3 linked regions of the Homo sapiens genome follow. The protein of the gene in region 1 purifies or fractionates together with the protein of each later gene. This does not show direct contact. Each region holds a gene or a part of one and is shown in the gene's direction. Other genes may lie near its edges. The genes, in order: SLC12A2, DHCR24 and RHOU.

Region 1 (8,040 bases):
GGCTTTGCACTTCACATGCTCTGATGCTGCAGATATGAGAAGTTGTAGGTCTAACATAATTTATATCTTCTTTTAGGATACTTTGGCATTTGTGAATTGAGAAGTTTGGAAAACAACTACGCAAGTCACTTCTAATCCTAAAATTCCAACTACATGAAATAAATATTAGTAAGTACTCAGACACACACAATGTCAAAGGCTGGCCTTGTGGCAAAAAGGAAATACAGCAAAATCAGTCAGGTTCCCACCACGGCACTGATAGCAAGTCTGTTCTCAAGGTTAGTCTCTAAACTGACACCTGGTAAGTCTGACAATGAAATATTTGCCAACAATTAAGTAAAGGAGATCTCTCCTGATAAATTTTTCATAAGTTTCACATAATACACTTTGATATTTCCTGGAATGTTTGTGGCCCTCCCCTCACTGCATTGCTCTCTCATTTTGTTGGCTAATACATGTTACTAAAGTCAATATATATTCAACTCATTTTTCTCTGCCTCTTGGCCCAATTTAACACAGCTGATCCTGTTTTCAAATGCCTTCATCTGATTTTCTTCTCACCTCCTGACCTTTGTAGGTCTTTTATGTGCTCATTAATGTTGGAATTACTTATTTTTTCCTTAACCAAGTTTTTCATCTGTAAAATGGATGTAATCTTATGATTTTCTTCATAGTGTTGCGAGAATTCAGTAAGATTATGAATGTATAGATTTTGGCACAGTATCCAGGACCTAAATTCTCTATAAAGGCTAACTACTATTACTACTATCAACTCACAGCTAGATTAGTGAAATTGTGTCCTGACTTTCCATGCTTATTCTTCCTCTTCTCCACTCTTCTGCTCATAATATAACTAGTTTTATTTTTATTTATTTATTTTTTGAGACAGTGTCTCACTCTGTCGCCCAGGCTGGGTGCTGTGGCACAATCATAGCTCACTACAACCCCCACCTCAAGTGATCCTCCCACCTCAGCCTCCCAGGGAGCTGGGAATACAGGTGCGTGCCACCACGCCCCACTAATTTTTGAATTTTTGTGGGTTTTTTTGGTAGAGATGGGGTTTCATTATTGTTGTCCAGGCTGGTCTCGAATTCCTGAGCTCAAGCCATATACCCGCCTTGGCCTCCCAAGTGCTGGGATTACAGGTGTGAGCCACCTTGCCAGGCCTAGAGAGTTTTAATAAGCACAAATCTGATTATGTGCCCCTCAATCTATCCAGAAACCCATTAATGCTTTTATAGGGCTTTTAGAATACAGACACATCTCTTACTACTTTTGCCCCCAATCCTTCCCTATGCTTTAACCAAACTGATTTCAAGCTTCTTGCTTCTTTGATAGTCCCTGCTCACTCCATGAGGGCATTTGTCCACAATATTTCCCTTGTTGGAAACCCTCTAGTGACAATTTGGTCCTAATTTTCCTTTAGACCTTTGCTAAAAAGTCACTTCTGTCTTGACTAAGTCTGGCCTATTTTGCATTTTCCTTATACTACGTTCCTATCCCCTAGAACTTCTGTTTGCAGTTACAAATTTATATGAGTGACTACTATTTATTATTAATACACATTTGTGTGTTTCTTCCAACAGACATCTCAGACTAAGCTCCTGATATTCATCCAACCCAAACCTGTTCCTTTAACCTCCTTTGCCATCTCAGAAAATAGCAATACTATTCTTCCAGTTGCTGAGGTCAAAACCCTTGGACTCTCACACTTCACATCCATCAGCAAATTCTATTGTTTCCCCAGAATTCAACTACTTTTCCCCATTTCCACTGATACCCACTGTGGTCAAAGCGCTATCATCACTTCCTGGATTGCTGTAATACCTCTTAACACATCTCCTTGCTTCTTTGACCCAACCATTTATCCCTTGCCTACCTACAAGACAGCTAGATGAATCCTTTAAAAATGGCAGATGTCATTCCTCCACTGAAACCTTCCAATAACCTGCCATCTGCCAAGGACTGTTGTGTACCCTGCTAAATTAATATGTTGAAGCCCGAATCCTCTCCTCACTCCTATGTGACTGTATTGGAGACAGTCCTTTTAAGGAGATAATTAAGGTTAAATGAGGTGATCAGGGTAAAGCCCTGATTCCACAGAACTGGTGCCCTTATAAGAAAAGAGACAACGCTCTCTTTATCATCTGAGGAGACATTGAGAAGGTACTGTCTGCAAGCCAAAAAGAAAACCCGAACATGATCATGCTGGCATTCTGATCTCAGACTTCCAGCAGGCAGAACTGTGAGAAAATATATTTCTACTGTTTGAGCCACCCAATCTATGTATTTTGTTATGGCAGCCTGAGCTGACTAACACACTATTCTACTAAAAAAGTCAAGTATGTCTAACAGCCAAAAAAGGTCCTAAACATTCTGATCTACTACATCCCATATCCTAAGCTCTCTGATGTAATTGCCTTTGATTCTTCACATCTCTTAAGCAAGTTCCAGCCAAACTGGCTTACATGCAATTCCGTGAGCATGCTAAGCATGCTCCTGCCTTTGGGTCTTTGGTTTCCCTCTGCTTCAGACACTTTTTTTCCCAAGAACTCATATCACTCACTTCCTTACTCAAATATCACCTTCTCAGTGAGGCCATCCTATGGAAAATTTTATGATCCTCATTTCACACAAATATCCCATTTCCCTTTCCTTAGTACTCACTGCTTGGATGCTATGTATTTTACCTATTTATCTTGTCTATTGTTTCTCTTTCTCACTAGAAAGAACTCCATGAGAGATGGGATTGTCCGTTTTGCTCACTGCTATATCCCGTAAATACAGAGTAGCTCATAGTACCTGTTCAGTATTTATTCAACTAAATGAATGTTGAATTCCAATAGTGGCAGAATTCGTTGTGGAGCTGAAAGGTACTGCACGGATCAACTACTAATGCAGCAATTCCCTAGTAGAAAACTGCACTGCTTAAAGGACCACCTCATTTTTCTGGCCTCCTCTGGTTATTACTAAAGCTCAAAAGGAGCTTTAAAAATCCTGATGCAACAGCTGTTTTCCCCTCTCACCGTCTTTAAAAATAGAGATAATAAAATAGCCTGAAAAGTTGTCAAGTTCAAGTAAGATCATGTTTATGACAATTTTTTGAAAATTGCCTGGTTGCAGCTTTTACTTACAGCATTTTCAAACAGTTCTGCCAACTCTGTGGCTCTTTCATCATGTTTCAAGTGTTCAGCAAACGATGGTGTTCGTCTCCATAAAGTCAAAGTTTAAAAATACAAGGGCCGGGCGCGGTGGCTCATGCCTGTAATCCCAGCACTTGGAGAGGCGGAGGTGGGCGGATCACGAGGTCAGGAGATCGAGACCATCCTGGCTAACACGGTGAAACCCCGACTCTACTAAAAATACAAAAAATTAGCAGGGCGTGATGGCGGGCGCCTGTAGTCCCAACTACTCAGGAGGCTGAGGCAGGAGGAGAATGGCGTGAACCCAGGAGGCGGAGTTTGCAGTGAGCCAAGATCGCACCCCTGCACTACAGCTTGGGCGACAGAGCGAGACTCCGTCTCAAAAAAAAAAAAAAAAAGTACATAAATAAAAACCAAGTAATTGGAGGACGCCATTCATTGATTTTACTTAGGACTTTGGGCATAATCTATAGGTTTAAAAATTTCTGCTGCTAAGAAAGTGGGAACACAGTTATATTCCCTTACATTTTACCGAAGAGAAACTAGACCTGCAGAGGAGTACCTTTCTGTTTCTATATAAGCAGAGGAATTCTGCACAACCCAAATCACGCAGAAACCTCCTGGTAAGGACTCCACGGGTAGTTATTGCCGGCATTGTATTCTGAGAGATGAGCTGCATATCACTTTTGGAAATGCCTTAAATTAAAACTCGTCTTGAAACAACATGACGTCTCAAAGAAGCTCCCTTCTCACCTTGGAACATCAGCTTTTAAAATAAAGGTGTCATCAGAAGTGTGTAGACACCCACTGCATCACAACTGGAACTGATCTCTGGTTATGCCAATCTAGGTCTGCCTGGCAGGGTGAGTCTACCGCTCGAAAGCTGCACAGAGGAAATCCTCCCTCCTCCAGGTTCAGGCCCGGAGTTACGAGCGGAGATTCGCGGCGGCGGGTCAGAGCCCAGAGCAAACCAGGCTGGGGAACGCACCTCGCCCGCGGCTCCGGAAGCGGCTGCGGCCCCGACCGGAAAGCCCCCAGCATCGCCCGAAGGAATCGCGGCTGGCCTGCGGCTCCGGCCCGGCCTCGGGTACCACGCGCCTAGTGGGAAGCCGCACTGACGCCTGCAGCATCTCGCGAGATTTCGGGCTCAGCCCAAGTACTGCGAGTTCACCAAAGCGGGGGGAAAAAAAAAAAGCCAGCGTGCGAGAGCCTCTGAAGCCGTGGCTGGGGCGCTGGGGTGGCAGCTGCCGCGGGAGCATCAGCTACCGGCGTGAGGCGAGGCAGGGCACGCGCGCCGTCCGCAGCCCCGTTGCCTGGGCTGCAGGTCCACTGACGCGCGGCCCCTGGGTGGAGAGAGGGGAGGTGGCCTGGGAGCCCGCTCCTTTTCGCCGCAGAGCGCGGCGGGGGAGGGAGGTGAAGGCGTGGGAGGAAGGCGGCGGAAGAGGAGGTAGCCGCGCGGAGATCCTCCCGGCGACATCACTGAGGCGGAGCGTAGCCGCGCCTGCTCCCCGATCGCGCCGTTCGTGCTGCCCGCACTGCCCGAGGCCCTTTGCGGACTGGCTGGCCGCGCTCTTCGCACGGGGCGCTTTTGCGTGGGGTCGCGCAGGAGCCGCGGAGGGCCGGATCGCTGAGGGAGCGTCAGCCGCGCGCCGCTGCGGGACCGCGGGTGGGCGGGCTGAGGGGCGGAGGAGCCTCCGGCCCCGCCTCCCGCGTGCTGCTGCCGGAGCCGCCGCCGCCGCAGCCCCGCCGAGGCTTTAAACAGCGGGGCCCGCCCCGCGCCCGCCACACTCGCGCGCTCGCTCGGCTGCCGGTGGCCTCTGTGGCCGTCCAGGCTAGCGGCGGCCCGCAGGCGGCGGGGAGAAAGACTCTCTCACCTGGTCTTGCGGCTGTGGCCACCGCCGGCCAGGGGTGTGGAGGGCGTGCTGCCGGAGACGTCCGCCGGGCTCTGCAGTTCCGCCGGGGGTCGGGCAGCTATGGAGCCGCGGCCCACGGCGCCCTCCTCCGGCGCCCCGGGACTGGCCGGGGTCGGGGAGACGCCGTCAGCCGCTGCGCTGGCCGCAGCCAGGGTGGAACTGCCCGGCACGGCTGTGCCCTCGGTGCCGGAGGATGCTGCGCCCGCGAGCCGGGACGGCGGCGGGGTCCGCGATGAGGGCCCCGCGGCGGCCGGGGACGGGCTGGGCAGACCCTTGGGGCCCACCCCGAGCCAGAGCCGTTTCCAGGTGGACCTGGTTTCCGAGAACGCCGGGCGGGCCGCTGCTGCGGCGGCGGCGGCGGCGGCGGCAGCGGCGGCGGCTGGTGCTGGGGCGGGGGCCAAGCAGACCCCCGCGGACGGGGAAGCCAGCGGCGAGAGCGAGCCGGCTAAAGGCAGCGAGGAAGCCAAGGGCCGCTTCCGCGTGAACTTCGTGGACCCAGCTGCCTCCTCGTCGGCTGAAGACAGCCTGTCAGATGCTGCCGGGGTCGGAGTCGACGGGCCCAACGTGAGCTTCCAGAACGGCGGGGACACGGTGCTGAGCGAGGGCAGCAGCCTGCACTCCGGCGGCGGCGGCGGCAGTGGGCACCACCAGCACTACTATTATGATACCCACACCAACACCTACTACCTGCGCACCTTCGGCCACAACACCATGGACGCTGTGCCCAGGATCGATCACTACCGGCACACAGCCGCGCAGCTGGGCGAGAAGCTGCTCCGGCCTAGCCTGGCGGAGCTCCACGACGAGCTGGAAAAGGTGAGCTCGCCCAGCCCTCCCTTCTTCCCCAGCCCCTGGTGCATGCCGACCGCGGGATGTGGCTGCAGACTCTTCCCGAGTTGAGGTGGCGGGAGTAGTAGACGTGCACGACTTGCTGGCATCTCTGGATTCAGCTGTCAAGGGTGGAATTGCCGAGGAATGTTAACTTAATCTCTCAAAAGTTTGTAGCGGGTTTGGCTAGTTACGTGATACCGGAGGGCTGCCTCTAACAACCTTCCCCATCCAGTTAGGTATCTCGTGTGCACTTTCTTTCCCACCCACGCTCAACAGTCACCATCCCTCTGAATGACAGTAGTGTTTGTGGGCCCTTTAGAGGAGAATGTGCAGTGAGGATCTCTCGAGAGAGGTTGGAGAGCACCTACCATCTGTGTCGTTTTGAAAGATTGTGTTGTGTGGCTTATGTACGCCTATTAGGGATCGCAAGAGTGGGAATGTTGCTGTTTGAAGGAAAACCTTAACAGGGTGTGTTTATGGTCTATGAGTTATTAAAGCTCAATTCTTGCAATCTTGAATATACAAAGGATCATAGAGATCTTGTCTTGGGACACGCTGTTCCTAATAATGGCATAACTCTTTTTTTTTGCGATGAAAACGTTTTGGGAGAGGTGTATATTTAAAAAAAAAGGGACAGAGGCGAGTCTTTAAAGAAAAAAGGGAAACAGGAGAATTGGTTTTTCTGTAGAGGATGACCAGAAAGACCTGTGGGGTCTTTGCCATAAGCAGTTACACTTTGTAAACAGAAAACCATCCCCATAAACTCATTGATTTTTGTAACTATTTTTTATGGTCACATAAGACTTATTTCTTCAGCGTTCAATGTCACTGTTTTGAGATAACATTGATGCTTTTGAGATTTCGTTAATGTTTAACTTTTTTATGAGCCGGGATTACTTGAAGTCTTCCTTTACAAGTGTGTAATGACTACATTGATGGAATTTGTGAACGCAAGAGGATGGTACCACATAGGTTGAAATGATCACAGTTTGGACAAGTTTAAATCCAGTATGTGATTTCTTTTGGATATGATTATTTGATCTCATACAGTGATTTCATACAAGATTGTACTTGTCCCAGTGTTTGATAATGTAACATTCACACAGAGGTAATTACAGAGCTCTTACAGCTTATTGATTGTTTAAAAGCCTGAGATCATTTAGCTTTAGATAATACTATTCTTGTTATTCCATTGTGGTATTTTGTCATAATCAGAAGCAAAACAATGTCTAAAACATTTTTTATTCATACTCCTGTAGTTTCTATCAAGTCTATTCTTTTTTCTTTTCAAAACTCAAAAATCATTGTAGACAAAAGTAGATATGGAGCTGGCAATTTTCATTATCTTAGGACAGTTTTACTAATGAAAATATTATACAGATATATTTTAGATTTATTTTACCAAAGCCAAGTATGTGAGCAGTAAAGTGATCTGTATTTACCCATAAGTTTTAGAAAGACATCCAATTGAAAGGTATATATGTTGAGCTTATATGCTTCCTAGGGAAGTTTTTGCTACTTTAAATTAAATTATCTCAATAACAAAGCACTTCAAGTTCTCCAAAACTTTAGATTTGTGTGTTTGTGTTTTTTGCTTGGCTTTTTGGTTCAAAGTATCTAAAAAACAACACCTGTACTGTTAGTTGTATGGTAGTTGAAGAAATCACCCAACCTCTTAGCTTCAGCTTTTCAGGGTTATCATGAAGATTAGAAAAAAAGCGCAATAAAAATGACCATGTTCAGTGCCTGGAAAATAATACCTAGTTGTTATTTCCCTCTTATATTGGCCCTTCAGAAGACTCTAGGATCTCAATTTTAGATTCTGTTAATTCTTACGTTATTAGGTGAATGTAGTATATAAATATTATGTTCAGTTTCATTTATGCAACAGGTACTTTAATTCTTTGTAGTTTACCTTCTGCCACTCATAATCTTTATGGCCACTGTTTTATTGGCTTAACTAATAACTACATGTTGAAGATAATTTTGCTTAGAATTTTAGCAGATGGATTAAAGAAATGGGTGTTAAGTAGTACAAATATGACTATACATCACTGTCGAAAGAGGGGCAGACAGGAGGGGTTATAACAGGTTGGCTGGATCCCCAGAAGTTGTCCCTTACTCTGTCTAAATTGACTTCTACCTCTCTAACA
Region 2 (7,663 bases), on another chromosome or scaffold:
GATATCTTCATGTGCTTCCATAATACCCTTATCATAGTACTTATGATGTTGATTTATAATTAATTCTTGATTGCCTAGATCCACACATGATCTGTCAGGAAAAGAATTGTGTCTAATTCACTACTGTGTCCCCAGCATTTTGCACAATTCCCGCACATTTAAAATCATTGAATGAATGTGCTGCAGAAATGGTTAATTTCCATCTGAAATTGGTTCCCCTTATTTTGCTAGATGTTGCTGTATATGATGTAGCACCTGGAACATGGCTGCTCTGCCCTCATCAGGGGAGTTAACCTGAGAAGACAGAGTAGGCAAAAGATAAAAAGAACTGGGTCTTTCAAATTGTCACTGAACCAATGAATTAACCAACTCTTGGTCAATCTGCATTCGGACTTCTTTTTTGTTTTGGACAGGGTCAGTCTATCACCCAGGCTGGAGTACAGTGGTGCTATCCATAGATCACTGCAGCCTCAACCTTCCGGATTCAAACGATTCTCCTGCCTCAGCCTCCCAAGTAGCTGGGATTATAGGTATGCACCACCATGCCAGGCTAATTTTTGGATTTTCAGTAGAGACGGGGTTTCACCATGTTGGCCAGGCTGGTCTCGAACTCCTGACCTCAAGTGACCCACCTCCCCCAGGCCTCCCAAAGTGCTGGGATTACAGGCATGAGCCACCAACCTTGGCCTGTTAGGGCTTTACTTTAAAACAAAGAAAACAAAGGTAATACTATATATATTTTTTTTTTTCTTTTTTCTTTTTTGAGACAGAGTCTTGCTCTGCTGCCCAGGCTGGAGTGCAGTGGCATGATCTCAGCTCATTGCAAGCTCTGCCTCCTGGGTTCACGCCATTCTCCTGTCTCAGCCTCCTGAGTAGCTGGGACTACAGGCACCCGCCACCACACCCAGCTAATTTTTTGTATTTTTAGTAGAGATGGGGTTTCACCACATTAGCCAGGATGGTCTTGATCTCCTGACCTTGTGATCTTCCCGCCTCAGCCTCCCAAAGTGCTGGGATTACAGGCGTGAGCCACCGCACCTGGCCAAACAAAGGTAATATTCTTAAAGAAGTTCCAGGATTAATACTCAGTCCAATCTCCTAAATTTTAGCATGCATAAGAATAACGTAGCTGACTTCTTAAAAAGTAGATTTCTGGCCCCACTTCTGGAGATTTAGCTTCAGTGGGATATGGTAGAGTCTAGGACTCTGCATTTTAGCAAGCATTCTGATGTAGTTGGTCTACAAACCACACTTCAACAAACCCTGTTCTAAAACTTCTACTTCATATCTATGGAACGGAACCACATGAATGGCTCCCAACTTCTGGATCTTTCCATCATTTGAATCTGCTCCCTTGATTATTGTGTGAAGTGTAGTTTGCAGACCAACTGCATTAGAATTCTCTATTCACCAGAATAAGACATTGATCAGGTAAGTCACTTAACCTGAGTCTAAATGTCCCCATTTATTTAAAAAAAAATACATATTAATTCCCTGCATTGCCACTCCTGAGACTGGTTGCAAAGATCAAATGATCTCAGTAGCTGCACTGTACAAATATAAGAAAATGCAATTTGTTAGGACTCTGGTATTTATCATGCTCCTTTACTGAAGAAAAAAAAAACTGTTCTTTACACTCTATTTATTAAGAAAGAAATAGAGGCTCACATTGTAGAAAGATTGCTACGTGGTCAAACTATAAAAGGGGTTTACCTAGTTAACCTGAAAAGTTCTTGCCCAGAACATCCTATTCCTAAGCATTCTGACTGTCTGCATGCTCCATCAACTCTGTAAGTAATGTATAATATGAATAGATTCCCTGACAAAGGAAGCTGCTTTGACTCCAGCAAAAATTAGTAGGTCCAAGGTTATATATCATATGATTCCATTCATATGACCTTCTGGAAAAAAAACAAAACTATAGTGACAGAACAGGGCAATGATTGCCAGGGGCTAGGAGGTAGGGGAGAGTATGACTACAAAGGGGCAGCAGAGGGAGTTTTTTGGGGTGGTGGAACTATTCTGTATCCTCATTGTGGTAGTAGTTACAGGAATCCTCATCATGCTAAAATTCATCAGCTGTACAAAGATTAAGCAGTTTTACTATATGTTAACTTAAAAAATTAATTAATTGATTGGCTCAACTCAAGTGACTGCTTTCCTTACCTGGATAAAAGCAACCCAAAGGATTAGAGTTTGGGGAGACAGAAAAGAAGAATCAGAAATATGAGGAGGGTAGGCAGGAAGAGAGAATGAGAAACGTGCACACTGAATAAACAATTGTTCTGAGTACTTTTTCACTTTTTTGTTGTTGAGACAGCCTGTTGCTAACACTAGTATGCAGTGGCGTGATCATGGCTCACTGCAGCCTTGACCTCCCAGGCTCAAGTGATCGGTCCTCCCACCTCAACCTCCTGAGTAGTTGAGACTACAAGTGCATGCCACAATGCCCAGCTTTTTTTTTTATTCTTTTTTTTTTTTTTTTAGAGACAGGGTCTTGCTATGTTGCCCAGGCTTGTCTTGAATTCTTGGGCTCAAGCAATCTGCCCCTCTTGGCCTCTCAAAGTGCTGAGATTACAGGCATGAACCACCACACCCAGCCTGAGTACTTTTTTATTCCTTTCCTTTTTTGGGAGTTGTTTCCTAAAGATCAGTTGTATCTACTTTCTGGGACTCCATCCTTCTCTTCCCAAGTATAAAACTATTCTGATTAACCAGTAATTTCCACTGTTTCTCCTACACAACACTCTTCAGTTAATTTTTAGGTAAATTTTACTTTCCAGATTACCTCACACCCCCAAAATAATCAGAATGGTTAAGCTTCTAAAGCAAAGCCCTCTTTAACAGAGTCAGACAGAATCGGGGAGAGGCATTTTTCACATTGGCTTTCCTCTTCATACTTCACTGTCCCCCTGTTGGTTGGAGCTTCTAGAGATGTAATACAAGACAAATCTGTAATTTTAAATTTTCTAGTAGCCACCTTAAAAAAGTAAATAAAACAGGTGAAATTAATTCTAATACTATATTTTACTTAATATATCAAAATGTTATTTCAACATGTCATTAACATAAAAATTACTAATGAGCTATTTTGCATTTTTTCTTTGTACTAAGTCTTTGAAATCCAGTGTGTGTTTTACTCTTAAAGGGCATTTCAGTTTGGACTAGCCACATACCAGTAGCTCATAGCTGTTGTGTAAGACAGTACAGGTCCAGGCTATTTATTTTTGAAGTCCAGTGCAAACAACCTCTCATTCTTTGCACTTTGATAACTTGAATATTTGAGCCTACAATCTTCATTCATTCATTGGTCAACAGCCGCTGGAGTGTTTACTGTGCACAAAGCACCGTGCTAGAAGCTGGAAGGACAAAAGTGAACAAGACATTGTTTGCCCTAAGGCTCAGTCTGTGGGGGTGAGAGACACATAAAGAGACAATTATAAAATAACATGAAAGAACGGTGACAGAGATGCACACTATTTAATGAGCATCTGGATGGGCAGGGGAGTGCTCTAAATGTTTCAGAGGTGGCCCTGAGCTGGCTTCGGAATGTGTGAGGTGAACTCTGAGAAGGGGATGGGAAAGGGCATTCAGAGGTACTAGCTTGACCAGAGGCGCGCAAATGAGGAATGCTGAGGCCCAGGGAGCCTCCTGAGTGCATGTCAGGGCAGAGATGAATGGAGAGGGAACTGGATAGGTATGCAAGGCCAGACAGAGAAGAACCTGGTATGTCATGTTTAGCTTCTAAACTAAAACATCTCGAAAACTTCCTAAAATTCCATATGAAATGCAAATGGCGCTGGATTTCAGCTTTTGCTGGTAACCGTGGCAGCTCCCCTACACTGGTTGCTGAGTGAGGGCAGGGCCATCTGCTTTGCTCACCACCCTACCCGAGGCTTGCAACACTGCCTGGCACAGAGCGGGCCTGGGGAGTTTACTCGGGCTGAAATGCCTTCCTTCATTCTTTCTCCTCCGGGCCTCCCATCTGCCTCAGTGAACTGGAAAAAGAGGAAGAGTGCCAGCCATAGCCTTCCATGCTTCCAATGGCCTCTGGAGTTCACGAACAGGTCTTCACCTTTCTGGGCTGCTTCCAAGTGTACACAATGGAGCTCACCACTCCCCACTGCCCAGGACTGCTGTGTAGCTCAAATGAATTCGTGGAAAGTGCCCCCTAAAAATGAAAAGATGCCTCTGGAGACCTTGCGCACACCGAGTGGCACGACCTGCAGAGGTTACCGCCAGGTTTCCATCCTCCGCGCCCGGGAACCGCCTGTCCGGCCAAAGGGTGACTGACTCAGGGCCGGGGCGCCTCCCAGCCCTCCGGCGGAAAGCCACTGCAAAACCGCTTAAGGCGCGTTTGGAAGAGGCGGCCCCGCAGCCCCGAGGGCCTGGGGCCCTGAGTCCCAACTGCCCACCCCCAGTATTCGCAGCGGACCCCACCGGCACCCAGTCCCTGGCACCCCCGCCTCGCGCGGCGGCGGGGAGAAAAGGGTGGAGCGGTCCGACTCCCGCAGCCAATGAAAGCTGCGGGTTCCTGGTCCGATCCCCGGCGCGGCTCGCCATTGGTCGCCGCCCGGGTCTCGGCCCACCGAACCTCGGCGACCCGAGCCAATCGCGAGGCGGCGGGCGATCCCGGGCTCCCCGGGCTGTGGGCTACAGGCGCAGAGCGGGCCAGGCGCGGAGCTGGCGGCAGTGACAGGAGGCGCGAACCCGCAGCGCTTACCGCGCGGCGCCGCACCATGGAGCCCGCCGTGTCGCTGGCCGTGTGCGCGCTGCTCTTCCTGCTGTGGGTGCGCCTGAAGGGGCTGGAGTTCGTGCTCATCCACCAGCGCTGGGTGTTCGTGTGCCTCTTCCTCCTGCCGCTCTCGCTTATCTTCGATATCTACTACTACGTGCGCGCCTGGGTGGTGTTCAAGCTCAGCAGCGCTCCGCGCCTGCACGAGCAGCGCGTGCGGGACATCCAGAAGCAGGTGAGCGGCGCCGGGTGCGGCCGGGACTCAGGGCCGGAGGCGGCGTGCGCGGGGATAGCGGGACGCGAGGTGGCGACGGGAGCTGCGGTGCGGGGGCGGCCAGGACTTCCTGGGGGGGTGGGGAGCTGGCGTTGGAGAGGGGTTGGAACGAAACAAAAATGTGATGGGGGCGGGGGAACAGAACAGGCAAAGTGCCCACTGTGTGCAGGGCATATGCGGGTACCTGGAGGGAGATGAAGAAGGGGAAGAGGGGGAGGTGCGAAGCACTCAGGTAACTCTCACCCGGCCCAAGCATTTCAGAGAAGGAAAGGCTTCCGGGAGGTGGAGCTGGGTCTAGAGATTGGGAAGTATGGGAAATGATTGGGGGAAGGTGTGTGGGTGGAGGGACTGGTGTGAGCAAATGCTGGGAAGCCGACAAGTGCAGGGCAGGGGCGGGAGAACGTCGGAAAAGTCCGTTTGGTGCTAGGCTGGAGAGGGGCCTTGATGCCAAGGCCGAGTTTGGACTTTATTTTGTACAGCAAGACGCTTTTGATTGGGTTTAGGATAGAAGACTAAAGCAAGAAGGTAGAACCCAGCCCAGAAGCGGGAGGGAAGAACCTCACAGCCTCTGCTGACGGAGGGCTCACTCCTTGACAAAGGCAGTCGGTCCATCTCTCAGTTCCTCAGGCACCCACGGAGCCTGTGACCTGCTGTGGCTCACAGTGGAGCCTCCTCTGCATCCAGGGACTTGGGCAGTTTCTTGACTCCCTCTGCTTCTCTTTATGTTCCTCTCTTGTTGGCATCAGGTTGCAGAGAGCTTCTGTTTCCTGCTGCCACCCTTCCGTAGGTGTAGCAGCCTCCATATTCTGCTTGCTCCGCGCTGGGTGCTTCAGGCAAGAGCATGAAGATGGATGCGGAGAGACGTTCCCATGAGGCATAAGACCTGGGGCCTGGTGGGAGAACGCAGTGTCTGGAAGTGCTTTGCCCTGTAGCTCTGGATTTTGCTGGTCACAGTCATGGCTCCAGAGCCTCTGCGTGTCCTCCCTCCCCACCTGCACCCTGTTTCCTAGCTCTTTTCTCGAGTTCAAATTCTCCATTTACCTGCTTGTCTCCCCTGTCAGACTGTGAGCTCCTAGAATGCAGGGACTGTTATGTGACTCGCCTGTGGCCCATAGGGCCTGGCTCAAAACAGCCTAGCGAGTGCCTATTAATCTTGGCTAAGCCACAAGATTCACTGTGAGCAGGAAAACAGGGGCCCAGCTGGACTAGCCTCTACCCCAGACCTGCCATGTGCCATTGCCATCCTCACAGCAACCCTGGTAGATCTTGTGCCTATCTTACAAACAGGGAAAATTGAGTTTCAGAGTGTGAGTCATGTGCTCAGGAAGACTAGTCAGTAAATGGGGCTAGAACCTAGGTTAGCTCGATTTCAGAGCCTGAACTCTGACATTTCTTCTTTCCCAGGCTTTCCCTTCCCCCCTATAGGTCTGGTTCAGTTGCCTCACACCTGGCTTGTAATAGCTGTCTGACCTAGTTGCCCTTTTTTCTGGGCTCTCTGTTTGGCCTCCAGCTTCAGTGCAGCACCCCTAATCACTCCCTCCCATCTCTGGGCTTGTGTCAAACTCCGTGGCTGCAGATTCAGGCAGGGACGAGACCTGGTTGGTCGTGGAATCCTACCTATCATCCCTTTTCCCCCAAATCACAGGAATCTCTTCCTTAATACCTGCCCTGGCCTCTGATCAAAGAAAAGTCCTTCCCCGTGTTGAGCTGTTTGCCTAGCCAGCTCCAGTGCAGCCTTCTCCAGGAGACCTGACCAGTATTTGACCAGACTTTTGGTTGCAAGTGAAAGAAGCTCAATTCAAACTGACTTGAGCAAAAAGGGATTTTATTGGCTCAGGTCCTGAAAAGTCTGGGAGTACAACTGGATCAGGCATGGCTGGATCCAGGATCCTCTGTCCCCCATCTCCATCTGTCCATCCCTCTGCCATCTGTTGGCCCTGCTTTTCTAGGTTGACTTCATTCTCTGGAGCCTCTCTCCCTGCAGAGGCCCCAACAGTTTCTGGCTCATATCCAACCGGCTTAGCGACCCCAGTAAAGAGAGAGTGGCTGTCCTGGAACTGGTCTCATTGGCTTGACTTAATGAGATGTCATTAATCTGTCTCTGGCCAGAAGTATAGAATCAGTCCTCAGTCATGTACCCACCTCCTGGGGTAGGGGAGTAGAATCAGTCTCACTTGGACCAAAGGAAGATGGGGATTGTTAGAAGTGGATGAAGAGGAAATGGATGGTCACAGGTCAAAATGACAAATATCCACCCCCCCTGCACTTGTCTATCTCAGCAGAAAAGAAACACTTCCTCCTGCATTTCTGATGGGCTTGTCATCCATGGGCCATTTGTTCTGTGTTTTGTGCTCTGGTCACTTACCTTAGAGGTTTTGTAAAACCTCTTCCTTCCATTGGCTTGGTGGTCCTTCCCTGCTCCTCCTCTTCCCCTCAAAGTGATGCATGAGTTAACATATACAAATGTTTAAACAGGCCTTGGCATGTGATAAGCCTCCATACGTGTTAGCTATTACCCTGTGAACTGTTACCACAACTCCATCTATCTTTCCTGTCCTGAAGTCAAACAGTCCTGGCTATGAATCTCAGCTCTGCCATTTACCAATTGTGTGACTTTGGACAAGTTATTTTGCTTTTGAGTTTCCTTATCCTCG
Region 3 (7,154 bases), on another chromosome or scaffold:
CCCAGAAGAAGCCCCCATTGGTGGGTACTCGAGTCATTGAAGTCAGGCTGTGCCTTGTGAACACCCAGGGGTACTTGATTTTGGCAAAGTGATAGTTAATGAACTTGTCTCTCTAGTATGTTCTAGAGTTCAGCAAAGTTCCGGGGGTACTTTGTAGGCAGGTGAAAGTGCCCCCTTCACTTTCTGAGGTGCCATCACATGACTATCTGTGTTTATGAAGGCACTGGCTTTCCACTGCCCCCCAGAGCCTCATCTACGCCAGAGCTTCCAAGTTGCTCACCTACTCTGGGACAGCAGATTCAGAGCTAAGGACAGATCTTATTTTTTAAACCTGAAGATGACATAAGACCGTGGAGCCTTGATCTCCAAGGAACACCGGGCTGGTGCAGGCCATAGCTTGGGAGCACTTCAGCTTGGAAAAACCAAGCACTGTCCGTATTGTATTGTCTGTAGAAAACAAAAATCAGGCTGGGTGTGGTGGCTCATGCTCTTTGGGAGGCTGAGGTGGGAGGATTGCATGAGGCCAGGAATTTGAGACCAGCCTGGGTAGCATAGCAAGACATCATCTCTACAAAATAAAAAAATTAGCCTGGTGTGGTGGCACTGTCTGTAGTCCCAGCCACCAGCCACTCAGGAGGCTGAGGTGAGAGGATCGCTTGAACCCAGGAGTTTGAGGCTGTAGTGAGCTATGATGGTGCCACTGCACTCCAGCCTGGGCGACAGAGCAAGATCCCATCTCTTGGGGGTAAAAAAAAAGAAAAATCAAAGAATACAGTCACTTCTAGCACTGAATCTTTCTGAATGCAATGGTGATATTTATAATTCAAGCTTCATTTCCTTGTATGAAGTGAGGATGCTTTGTCTACCAGGGGGTCAGGTTTTCTGAGTTTTAAAACATGGCCAGCCAGGCGCGGTTGCTCACGCCTGTAATCCCAGCACTTTGGGAGGCTGAGACGGGTGGATCATGAGGTCAGGAGTTCAAGACCAGCCTGGCCAAGATGGTGAAACCCCGTCTCTACTAAAAATACAAAAATTAGCTGGGTGTGGTGCCGGGCGCCTGTAATAGCAGCTACTCAGGAGCCTGAGGCAGACAGTTGCTTGAACCTGGGAGGCGGAGGTTGCAGTGGGCTGAGATCGCGTCACTGCCCTGCAGCCTGGTTGACAGAGAGAGATTCCATCTCAAAAAAAATAAAACACAGGCAGAGGAACATGTCAGTAAACATAGCCATCGGACCTGCTGAAGTCAGACCCTGAGGATAAGATGGAAGTCAGGAAAATACAGGAAGTCCAAAGGCACAGTTAGCAGGGAGCCTTACGGGCTGGAGCAGAAGCTCAGTGCACCTACCTGCCCCAGGATGTCACTCAAATATCACTGTCCACTGGGCTCCCCGTAAGTGTTGGCTCTTCAAGCAGGATGCAGCTTCTTGAGCTGGGGTTTCATGCCCAGTGCCCAGCATAGTGCCTGGCACATAGCAGGGCTTAATCTCGTGGTTTTAGAATGGATGAACCAGAGAAGGACCAGGTGGTGGGGGTATAAACATAAGTTGTGGGCCTGCCCCTTAATAGACTTACAGTGTGGAGGGAAGACAAATGGAAGCTCGTGAAGGAGCAAGCAAAGGGAAGAAAAGAGGTTCGGGCTTAGAGGTGCAGGCTGGTTGGGCCTGGCAGGAAAACCTCTGAGCAGAGTTTTGAAAGACAAATAGGAATTTTACCAGAAGAACTTTGCATAAATGACTGAATCATCAAGGAAGAGTTAAATTGTTCCTGTTTAAAAATCAGGGAAGCACAAGCATCACTTTAGTAGTATTTTTGCACAAAAAAGTTTATAATTAGGGAAAAACGAAGGTTTTGGTGCTACATTTGTAAGTTTCAGTTTATTTGAAAATTATTCTTCTGGCCTCTTAGCAATATTTTCAATGAGATTTACTGTATTTCTTAACCTTTGTGTACTGGTTAGAAGAGTATACCCAATTAAATAATGAATAAGACCACTATCTAAAAATTTGTAGACTTTTAGAACCAACTTCAAAACTTTTGAAGAAGAACCATCTTCAAAAACTATGAAAAATAAGCTGCTGGTAAGATAAGTCAGTTGTTCTGTTTTTGTTTTCCTGATCCCCCATTTATAAATTAGTCTTTGTTTAGACTACTAGCCAAGCTGGTCAAAGTGGCAGTTCTTTTCTACTCTCCCTAGTCCTGATCTGATAAAATACATTTTAAGGGACTTGCTGTGATACCTGCCAAGTTTCCTTATGGAGGAAGGAACACATACCTCTTCTAGGCAGTTGACATAAGAGCCTTGAGGGTTAAGTGACTCCACTGACCTCCACTTCAGATGCCTGGAGAATCAACGTGAGCACAGATAGGCTAGAACTTGGGGATGTGGAGCTGGAGTGTGGGTTTCCCACAGAAGTTGATGGGAGCAGAGTATGGATGGCTCTACATGCTGAAGAAATCACTTCTTGTACTTTGGCTTTTCTTGTTAGGGAGGGTAGGCGAGTCTATAAGATGTCAAAAGGAGTTTTTAACACTGGTCTTACATCACTCAAGGGCAGATTGATCAGAGACAGACTGGAGGCTTGAAAAAACATACCTTTGGCATAAGAGAAAAAAGTATTGCGGAAATAGGAGTAGTTCACTGGAGAGTTGCCAATAGAAGCTGAAAATTCTTCAGCCTTTTGACCCATAAAGTACTTGGAAAAATCTTATACTGAAAAAAAAAAATCAAGTTGCAGCTAGACCAGAGGGATGTAGAATCCAGTCTCGTCTCTCTGCCCCGCCAACCCTGATCAGACTTCTGTGCAGTGTCCGTACCACAGACCTGGCAAGCACATGCAAATTGCTTGGCCTCAGAACGCCTTTTCTTAAGGGTGCATTCCAGTTGTCCTCATTGCACGTGTGTATTGCATTATTTCTAAGATTTCAGGTCAGGCACTGAGCAGGAGGGTCTAATTTCTGTTTTATTTCTCAAGCCCCTTAGCCAGAATCTCAAGAGATCTGGGGAGATAGCTTTCCAAAGCCCCCTCAGAAGTCCCAGCCCTTGTGCTTGCCTTTATTTTTCTCAGTAATGCAACCCCAGATACCAGGGCATGGCCAGGGGTGCAGCTACCTGAGGGGGCTGCCTTAATACTGGTCTCAGTTTTATGCTTCTTTCTTTGAGGCCCTCTAAGAACAGAGGGAGCATTCCATTAAAAGATCTTCATGACTGAGCCATAGTCTACCTGGCTGTGTTTCTGTGTTTATTTATTCATCACAAAGTTGGCATGAAGAAACTTAAGTCATTATTTTTCTTTTTAAAAATTTTTTTTAGAGAGCAGGGTCTTGGTATGTCACCCAGGCTGGTCTCAAACTCCAGGGCTCAAGTGATCCCCCTGCCTCAGCTTCCCAAGTAACTGTGACTATAGGCACGTGCCACCACATTTGGCTAAGTCATACTTTTTCAACTTTCGCTTACAGAAGCCTCACAAGTGACATTCTGAAATACCACATTGATTGCTGAGCATTTTAGCTGGTTGACTTTAATGTGATTAGTTGGTTGGCTGTCGTCCCGTAATTGAAACATGGGGCCTCAAATGAAGAAAGTACATTCAAATAAGTTACAGGTTTCTTTTATACCAAGAGAAAAAAGCCACGGATGGAGTATAATGTGATGTAAATGGTACTTGGTAAATAATCGGAGTGTGTCAATTGAGTAATGAAAAACATGAATGGCGTTGAACTTTTTCTTGTCATTGGGAAATTATTTATACCTGAGGATGGTTGGCACCAACAGATATACATTTTACATAGGAAAGAGTAAATATTTTTCTACAAAAGAGTTGAGCAAAAGTTGTCAGTTAGCTGAATATGGTGCTACAGGGAACTATAGGATGTTTTCTGTAAAGAAATGGTAATTTGGAGAACAACATCTGTCTGTTCACAGCCAAATCCCCTCGCCTGCCACTGTGCCTTGAGTGTAGGTGATGTTCAGTGTGTCTGTTAAATGGATGACCACGGGAGAGCATTGGCAGCACAACCGTTGGTTTATTTGTAATCAACTCTAACTTATTCTATCCACTTCTCTATACTTTAAGGGTAGGGTGGGCGTGCCTATTCTCCAGTTCTTATCTGTCCAAAGCACTGTACATGGAGGCCATGGGTACTGGCAAGGATAAAGGAAGTAGGAGAAAATGAAGGAAGGAGGGAGGAAGAGAAGATACAGCCAGAATGAGGATGTATTAACTAGTGTCTGTAAGTGGCACTGAGCTGCAAAAGTTTTCTGAGTCACGATGACAATGGACTGACAAAGGTCCTCAACTCCATTTCTGGTCTGGCCTTGAGTCTGATTAGCATTACTCTGCGTTGCTGTGCATAGTGTGGGCAGAGCGTGTGCACAGTGCAGATGGGATGAAATTGGCATCACTCAGAGCTGTTGGGAAAGGCAGGGCTGGATTGATAAAGAGAGGAGCTGTGTTCGTAGACTGGGTTTGAGTGGGAGTCTTGAGGATCAATATGGGTGTGGTCTGAATTTTAGAAGAGTAGCTAAGTACCAAGAGTTGAGAGTAGGTTTGGGTTACACTCAGCTGAAGGCTTAAGTCCATTTTATTTCTAGAACCCACCTACTTTGAGCACTTTTTCTATGTTAAGCTGTAAGTAGGTCTTGAGTGTCGATGAACACGTTGAACATGTTTGGCAGTGTTCAGACCATAGCTGGCCCTGAAAGCAGATGGCTGCCACACCTTCGCTGGTGCACTGGCCCCGCTTGGGTAAACAGTAGGATCGTTTCAAGGATGCTGGCTCTTCCTTCTAGAACCAGCGGGTCTTCTATCACCTGCCAGACCCTTTCATGAAAAATGTGAAGGTGATCTTTTTACTGATGAGAATTCATGAAAACATAACTTTTGGGTACTTTGCTTGGTTGCAGGATGAATTTGACAAGCTGAGGCCTCTCTGCTACACCAACACAGACATCTTCCTGCTCTGCTTCAGTGTCGTGAGCCCCTCATCCTTCCAGAACGTCAGTGAGAAATGGGTGCCGGAGATTCGATGCCACTGTCCCAAAGCCCCCATCATCCTAGTTGGAACGCAGTCGGATCTCAGAGAAGATGTCAAAGTCCTCATTGAGTTGGACAAATGCAAAGAAAAGCCAGTGCCTGAAGAGGCGGCTAAGCTGTGCGCCGAGGAAATCAAAGCCGCCTCCTACATCGAGTGTTCAGCCTTGACTCAAAAAAACCTCAAAGAGGTCTTTGATGCAGCCATCGTCGCTGGCATTCAATACTCGGACACTCAGCAACAGCCAAAGAAGTCTAAAAGCAGGACTCCAGATAAAATGAAAAACCTCTCCAAGTCCTGGTGGAAGAAGTACTGCTGTTTCGTATGATGCTGGCAAGACACCCAGAAAGGCTATTTTCAGATGAAATCGATATTAGAAGCTATATTAGCTGAAACAACTCCTTTTACTGCGTAGAACCTATATCGAGAGTGTGTGTATATGTATTATAGGAGGAGCTCTCAATTTTATGTATTCTTTCTGCCTTTAATTTTCTTGTTTGTTTGAGCTTAGGGATGAGATACTTATGCAAGATATTTTTGAAGTAAATTAAACATTTTTCACATCTCTGGAAATTTAGAGTTCTAGACCTCTGGTTAATTTATATCTAATATGAAGAAGACACCTCTAATCTGGATGTTAAGAATGAAGTTCTGCTACATTATAATGTACAGAAGAGCAAAAGGGAGGAACACTATGGTTAACCCTCTCTTGATTAAGGGCTACTTAATGCACAGTGCATTATGTACACAGGTCAACCATGGTAACAATAGTTCTTAGCTTTGAAACTCCATGCAAACCATGCCTTTTTTTTAAGGAGCAAAAATCTGAGAAAAAAAGTGAGAGACCTCTGCCTACAAAACCTCAAACCAGTCACTTTTGTCAATTGCTAATACCCAGTTACTTATGATTTAAAAACAACCAACAGAAAACATCCCACTGACTGTATGGCACTCTGTAGTCAAAAAAGGAAACTTCCTTATTGGGACTTTTCTTTCTTAGTCCAGTTGTGTTGACACATATGAACACAGACAAAGTGCTATGCGGAGGAAAGCAAGTGTTGGTCAGTAGTTTCATGTTTTAGGGAGTGGTTCCTGTGGAGATCAGAAAGTGACATTTGCTTTCGGTACTGTAATACGTGCACCAAACTGCCTCAATCCTAGGTAACGAGGGCAACAGGGAGCACCTGTCTGGATTGTTTTTAAACCTCCATACTCAAGCTGTCTCTTCGGCAGGGAGGTGAATACTCTTGAAAGGCCAACAGCAAGTGTTTGTGGGACACAACACAGATAATTTTTTCTTAAGTCGGCCAAGATGTACTTCTCTGTGTGCACACCCATGCACACTCATGCACACAGATACATAGGTCTGTATGGCTGTATTTGCTGTTGATTCAGACTTTCACACCATTAATGGGGAAAAGCGTGGCCACAAAAACAGATGCTAGGAAGCTTGGCTTCCTCTTCTTGTTGACCCTTTTTTGAACCAACATCTTTTTTATTATATTCAGAGTATGTTTTTAAGTGTATCTTAATATATACATTTTTTAGGACATCTTAAATCTAAACAAAAAATAAAATGAACATCTCTTGAAACCTGTTAAAACAACCAGTTAAAGCCACAGATGGCTTTCAGGGCAGTAGCAGCAGAGGCCAGTGGACTCTGAGGACTCCTGAGGGGCGGGGCGTGTAGCCAGCCAGGTGCATGCCGGGACCATGGCCCCCATACTTGGCTGCTTCCTGTGACAGTGAAATACATCCTTCAAGGTGGCAGCTGTTAGGGCTGAATCTTCTGGAGAAAAAGGTGCCATCTCAGGAGAATAGCTTTTACTCTGGTAGGAATGCTTCCGAGACACCACAAGGCAGCCTGAACACTCAGTTGCAGGGTCGGGCTTGCGGTGGGTGACCCAGAGCCACCAAAGTCACATCCACAACTAATGAGGGAAATCTGTAAAGCCAGTTAGATAGAAGAATTTTATTTTTCTGTGGGTTTTGTGTTGTCTTTTTTATGTTAAAAAGAAATCCAGTTTGTGTTTTTCTATAGAAAAAGTAAAAGATCAGGTTATACTTTAGGTTAGGGGTTCTATTTATTCCTGTTAGTAAATAAAATTAACAAATTTCTTTGT

Evidence for each region.
Region 2: the proteins of SLC12A2 (region 1) and DHCR24 purify together in Homo sapiens (affinity purification with mass spectrometry; 2 studies listed by BioGRID and IntAct, with this or other methods). This does not show direct contact.
Region 3: the proteins of SLC12A2 (region 1) and RHOU purify together in Homo sapiens (affinity purification with mass spectrometry; 2 studies listed by BioGRID and IntAct, with this or other methods). This does not show direct contact.

What each region holds. Positions count from the first base shown.
Region 1 is NC_000005.10:128,078,839-128,086,878, forward strand, and holds the start of SLC12A2 (solute carrier family 12 member 2), read left to right. Parts: upstream 1-4,927; 5' UTR 4,928-5,116; coding exon 5,117-5,872; intron 5,873-8,040. UniProt on the Homo sapiens protein: Cation-chloride cotransporter which mediates the electroneutral transport of chloride, potassium and/or sodium ions across the membrane. Plays a vital role in the regulation of ionic balance and cell volume.
Region 2 is NC_000001.11:54,884,196-54,891,858, reverse strand, and holds the start of DHCR24 (delta(24)-sterol reductase precursor), read left to right. Parts: upstream 1-4,663; 5' UTR 4,664-4,739; coding exon 4,740-4,970; intron 4,971-7,663. UniProt on the Homo sapiens protein: Catalyzes the reduction of the delta-24 double bond of sterol intermediates during cholesterol biosynthesis.
Region 3 is NC_000001.11:228,738,382-228,745,535, forward strand, and holds part of RHOU (rho-related GTP-binding protein RhoU), read left to right. Parts: intron 1-4,903; coding exon 4,904-5,359; 3' UTR 5,360-7,154. UniProt on the Homo sapiens protein: Binds to and activates protein kinase PAK1. Plays a role in the regulation of cell morphology, cytoskeletal organization and focal adhesion assembly during cell migration. Also stimulates quiescent cells to reenter the cell cycle.